2 separate regions of the Homo sapiens genome follow, and region 1 is linked to region 2. A link means that fine-mapping ties the variant in region 2 to the expression of a gene that starts in the linked region. Tissue or cell type: spinal cord. Region 2 holds a variant in brackets; the other region holds the start of a gene. All regions are shown on one strand. Distances are between the middles of the regions. Region 1 holds the start of LINC00706 (long intergenic non-protein coding RNA 706). Region 2 has its middle 18 kb from the start of LINP1.

Region 1 (2,916 bases), 23 kb before region 2:
TCTTAATTAGGAATGAGTATACTACAAAGGTGGGTAAGAAATGAAGTGGTGATGGCTGGTGGGGCTACTCAGTGAAGGCACAATCATGTCTTCCCCAGTGCTTTCTTCAAGGTCATAGAAGGACCCAAACACTAAACCAATCTTCTTCTTCAGGTGTTTCTCAGGGCTGGTGGTTCTTGGCAACTATGAGTTGCAGTTGGCCTCAAAGCCCTAAGATGCACCTGTTGCGTGTATGTATTTCAGGTTGAATCTCATACATGACAGATTCTGGAAGGCTTAACAAAGTCAGTGCTGGATAAAGGCAGCATGATGATACTGACTTTTCTGAAATTTTTTGTTGGTTATGGCCAATAATTAATATAAACCGTTCTCTTGCATTTAAGCCTGACTTAACTACTTCTGAGTTTTATTGTGGGATATAAAAATTAAAAATATTGTATTAGCATTCTCTAGAAGGACAGGACTAATAGGATAGATGCATATATGAAAGGGAGTTTATTAAGGAGTATTGACTCACATGATCACAAGGTGAGGTCCCACAACAGGCCATCTGCAAGTTGAGGAGCAAGAAAGCCAGTAAAGTCCCAAAACCTCAAAAGTAGGAAAGCTGATAATGCAGCCCTCAGTCTGTAGCCGAAGGCCTGAGAGCCCCTGGCAAACCACTCGGGGGGTAGGTCCAAGAGTCCAAAAGCTGAAGAACCTGGAGTCTGATGTTTGAGGGCAGGAGGCATCCAACACAGGGGAAAGATGAAGGTCAGAAGACTCAGGCAGTCTAGTCCTTCCACGTTCCTCTGCCTGCTTTATTTTAGCCACACTGGCAGCTGAGCTGGCAGCTGGGTGCCCACCCAGATTGAGGGTGGGTCTGCCTCTCCCAGTCCAGTGACTCAAGTGTTAATCTCCTTTGGCAACACCCTCACAGACACCCCGGGGCAATACATTGCATCCTTCAATCCAATCAAGTTGACACTCAATATTAACCATCACAAATAGTAAGCAAAAATGATAATTTTTACCATTATTATCTCAAAATTATGAAAGCTTTTATCTATAGCACTTCCAGTTTTTTAAAAGTGAGATTCATAAGACTGTGTTTACCCACCACACTGAATGCTACTGTCATGACTTGGCATGAAAAATAGCCACCCACTCAGAGTCCAGGAACACTGTGCCCTCCCCTGTGACGTCAACCTGCCTGGTTTATTCAGTGTGTGGCTGTTGCTCAGCATTCACCCAACAACATTTTTGATGCATGATGCATATGGTGCTAAATGCTGGGAATGCAAACCTGAGTAAGGTATTGTCCTAATTCCTGCCTAACGGTTTTCTGGGTTTCACTGGCTATGATTTCTGATCCCTCCCTCCCTCCCTCCCTCCCTCCTTCCCTCCCTCTCTTCCTTCCTTCCTTCCTCCCTCCCTCTCTCCTTCCTTTCTTCCATTTTTTTCTTCCTTCCTCCCTCTCTTCTTCCTTCCATTTCCTTCTTTCCCTCCCTCCTTCCCTGCCTTCCTTCCTTCCTTCTTCATTCTCTCCCTCCCTCCCACCCTCTTTCTTTCTTCCTTCCTTCCTTCATCACTCCCTCCCTCCTTCCTTCCTTCCTTTCTTCCTTCCTTCCTCCCTCTCTCCTTCCTTCCTTCCATTTCCTTCTTTCCTTCCTTCCCTCCCTCCCTTCCCTCCTTCCTTTCTTCCTTCTCTCTCTCCCTCCCCCCCCCCACCTACCTTCCTTCCTTCCTTCCTTCCTTTCTTCCTTTCTTCCTTCCCTCCCTTGTTTCTTAACCATTGCTTGTTAAGGGATGGCTCTGCACTGAATTCTGGTAATCACCGTGCTTTTCTTTTACTAAAGGTGGAACACAGGGGTGAATCGTTTAGGGCAACTAAGGGTATGTGGGAGAGGTTGATGCTTTCCCTCTCACAGGTGAGTCTCAAGCCTCCAAGGAAATGACAGAAATGCTTACAGATGGTTTTAGGCAGTGGTGCCTTATGGGGGGGTAAGTTTTTGCTTTCTTTTCCTAAGAAAAGAACAATCCAATCTGATTGCTTCCCAGTGTTTTGGAATTGGATTTGTGTTTTGCAGTGATGAACCTGGCCTTAAGGTAGGTGCGGGGTGAGCCCATTAGAGATAAAAGGTAAAACCAGAAATCCAGTGGACAGCCATCTGAAACCCGTTCAGCCTGAAGCACTTTTTTCTAGACTCAAGAGCATCGTTGTATCAATAGAAAAGGGCAAAGATGGTGAAACAAAGTCATGTATATCCATCCATGTGCTTTCTCAAGCTTTTTATGGGTATTTTCTACAACTTAGATGTGCCTTGTCCTCACCAAAACCCATGTGGAAGTTTCATTGCAAGAGACAGTGTTGGGAAGTGGGGCCCAGTGGGAGGTGTTTGGGTCATAGGGGTGGATTCCTCACGATAAATTGGTGCCGTTCTCAGGATAGTGAGTGAGTTCTTACTCTTGCAAGACTGGATTAGTTCTTGCAGAGATGGATTAGTTCCCTCAAGAGTAGGTTGGTATAAAACATGTCACCCTCCTTGGTCCCTTCCTTTTCACACATGCCTACCCCAGTTTTGACCTTCTGTTATGTTATGACACAGCAGGAAAGCCCTGGCCAGAAGCCAGCGCCATGCCCTTGAAATTTCCCACCTGCAGAACCATGAGCTCAATAGACCTCATTTCTTTCTAAACGACCCAGTCTCAGATACTCTGTTATAGCAACACTAAATTGACTAAGACAGTGTTATTTTGTAGAAGTAATGTAATCCCTCTGAAAAGAACATGGGATTCAGAGAAAAATGCCACAGCTCTTAGTCCAGTTTTGCCATGACCTAGTAGAATGAGATTGCTGATGCTAAAAATGTTGAAATAAAATCATAGTATAAAGGTCCTAAAACCACACCTGGCACGAAGTAGGCCCTGCACGAA
Region 2 (2,916 bases):
GTCCCTCCACACCCCCACACTCCCAAAACTGTTCTTTCCCACTGAATTTCTATTAATAATTCCACATGTGAACTTTAATGAAAATGCATTCCATATGTTTCTGATGGATTTATACGTAATGCAGAAAATTATATGTAAGTTCCATTGAAGTCCAGGCAGTCTTCTGAACCTTTCCCCATGCCTCCTTCTCCTCCTTTAAAACAAGAAGTTCTATGGTTGCCAAGATTTCATTTAAGAATGAGCCCATAAAAAAGAACAAATTAATGGAATTCACAGCAACCTGGATGGAACTGGAGACTATTATTTTAAGTGAAGTAACTCAGGAATGGAAAACCAAACATCATGTGTTCTCACTCATAAGTGGGAGCTAAGCTATGAGGATGCAAAGGCATAAGAATGATATAAGGAACTTCGGGGACCTGAGAGAAGGCGTGGGAGGGGAGTGAGGGATAAAAAACTACACACTGAGTTCAGTGTATACTGCTTGGGTGATGGGTGCACAAAATCTCACAAATTACAACTGAAGAACTTACTCATGTAACCAAATACCACCTGTTCCCCAAAAACCTATGGAAATAAATTTATTTTTTTAAAAAAAGGAACCCAGTTTCCAAGTGGGCTTCCAAATGGGTCAGTTTACTCGGACCATCTCTGCTCCCACCCTGCAAGGAAATTGTGAACATGGCGCAAAGCAGCTCGTTTATTGTGGGTTCCTTTTTACTCTGCGAGTTCTCTGTCAGTGCCGTGCAGCTGTGTTTCTGTGAAAACAAGGGCACCAGAAAAGGAGAAAAACACTGTTTATGAGGCTGCTTAGATTGGTGAGTCATAGCATTTCAATAGCCCTGAGATATACACAGCTGACTACTTATGCAAATTTCAAACATCATGTTTGAACAAAAGGTTACATGGTAACATAACCTAGAGCCTTTATTACTAATGAAGCACTTATTTCCATTTGAATACAGAAATGTGTATTTTTTTTTCACTTTCTCTGGCTTCTCATAATTGTGTCTAATAATATAAAAAAAAATGGGTCTTTATCTCCACGAGGCATAGGCATCAGGCAGATTTCATGTTATTGCAGGCATTAGGGGAACATGCATCGCTCTGATTTCTCCCCACTTTTCAGTGCAGTTCCAAGATGCTAAGCCCCAGGTGCATCTTTGAAATGAGAAATTTCATTAACTTTTTTCACTTCCGAGGGCTGGCTGTTCTTTAGGCGTGGTTTTAAAATTAATAGTAATAATAATAATAAAGGAAGATGATTTTTAAAACTTAGCCATGTTCGGTTTTATTATCAATTATGTAAGACAAACTTGGCAAGATTAATAGCAGCTTTCTACCTATCAGAGTGGTTTGTATTTTGGTACAATACAGAAAGTTAGAATTGACAAGAGGGAGAATTTCTTAATGAGATCTATATTTCCAGAGGTGGGCCTTAATGCCACAGTGAATTTTGTTTTAATAAATAAGATAAATGAGACAGACAGTTGAATATGTAAATAGGAAGACAAGTGACTTGAGTAAACCGTAAGAATCAGTGAAAACTTGAGTTCGCACCAGTGTGTTTACACACACACACACACACACACCTTCTCTTATTTGAATTAACCACTGTCAAAGACTGTAGTGACACAGATCAAATGTCAAACAATGTAGCCCAAGCCCAGCCCCCTTCTTTCAAATCTAAATTTAGCAAATATCTTTCAATATTACACTTTTCTCCTTTGAAACTTGAAGGCTTTGGGCATTTAAGAATCAGTGTTTCAGCTGCAATGCTTCTGAGAGGAAGGGAGATTTTCAAAGAGC[C/A]TTTGTCAGCCCAGGAGTGAGTGAGTTAATCCATCCACCTGCCCCAACTGAGAGCAGAAGACACTGTTTATAGGACTGAAGACAGAGGTGCTGGGTGCAAGGACTGAGACTAAGAATGGAAATGCGAGAACCAGGATTCAGGGGTAAGTTGGTGGGTTTGGACCCAGTAAAAAAAAAATTTAGGGACCTCTCCAAAAATGCAGATGGGCTGAAAGACTTCAGAGTGCATTGCCTGGGACCTCCTCCCCCACTGTCAGCACTGGCAGTCCTAGTTACCTGGCTGTCTTCTCAGCTACCCCTTAGGCTCTAGGAAGCCTCTGGTTTAGAGTGTATGAGCACTTCAGCATCCCCCATCCTGACCCCGGCTTCAACAATTCTTGTCCTAGAAGGAGATGGGAAAAAGAGCTCAGCCTCTGTGTGGCTCATTGACTTGAGCATGGGCGCTGTGATAGTCTGTCGTACAAATCAACTTGTCTGGGCCATGGGTGCCCACATATTTGGTCAAACATTATATGAGTGTGTCCATAAGGGCATTTTCAATGAAATTAACATTGAATCAGTAGACTGAGTAAGGTGATTGCCCTCCCAGTCTGGGTGTTCCTCATCCAATCAGATGAAGGCCTGACTAGAGCAACAGGCTGAATAGGAAAGAATTCTCTGTCTCTGCCCTTGAACCGGGGCAACAGATTTTTCCTGCTTTGGGACTCAAACAGAAACAGCAGGTCTTCTTGGGTCTCAAGCCTGACAGCCTTCAGATTGAAACCACACATCGGCTCTCCTGGGTCTCCACCGTGCCGACTGCTGATCTTGAACTTGGCCTCCATAATCATGTGAGCCAATTCCTTATAAATACATTTACTTACATGCACGCACACACACACGTGCACACACACACACATGCACACACACGAACATGCACGCACATATACACATCATGCACACATACAAGCACACACAAAAACATGTGTGCACATGTATACACATACATGCACACACACATACATGCACATATATACATCCTATCAGTTCTATTTTCCTGGAGAACTCTAACCAATACAGGTGTCCAAAAGACAAAAAAAATAAAAAAGCATGTGATCTTTACTACTA

Evidence for each region.
Region 1: LINC00706 starts here. The variant in region 2 is fine-mapped to the expression of LINC00706 in spinal cord (GTEx, PIP above 0.99).

Annotation. Positions count from the first base shown.
Region 1 is chr10:6,777,489-6,780,404 of GRCh38, reverse strand. It overlaps LINC00706 (long intergenic non-protein coding RNA 706), which reads left to right and starts at 1,225. Exons shown (of 2, transcript NR_108074.1): 1 at 1,225-1,294. LINC00707 (long intergenic non-protein coding RNA 707) reads right to left here and starts at 807. Exons shown (of 5, transcript NR_038291.1): 1 at 518-807.
Region 2 is chr10:6,754,138-6,757,053 of GRCh38, reverse strand. No RefSeq gene overlaps it. Among named protein-coding and RNA genes, the nearest start is that of LINP1, 18 kb to the right of the region's middle. The variant C/A (reference allele first, on the strand shown) is at 1,810.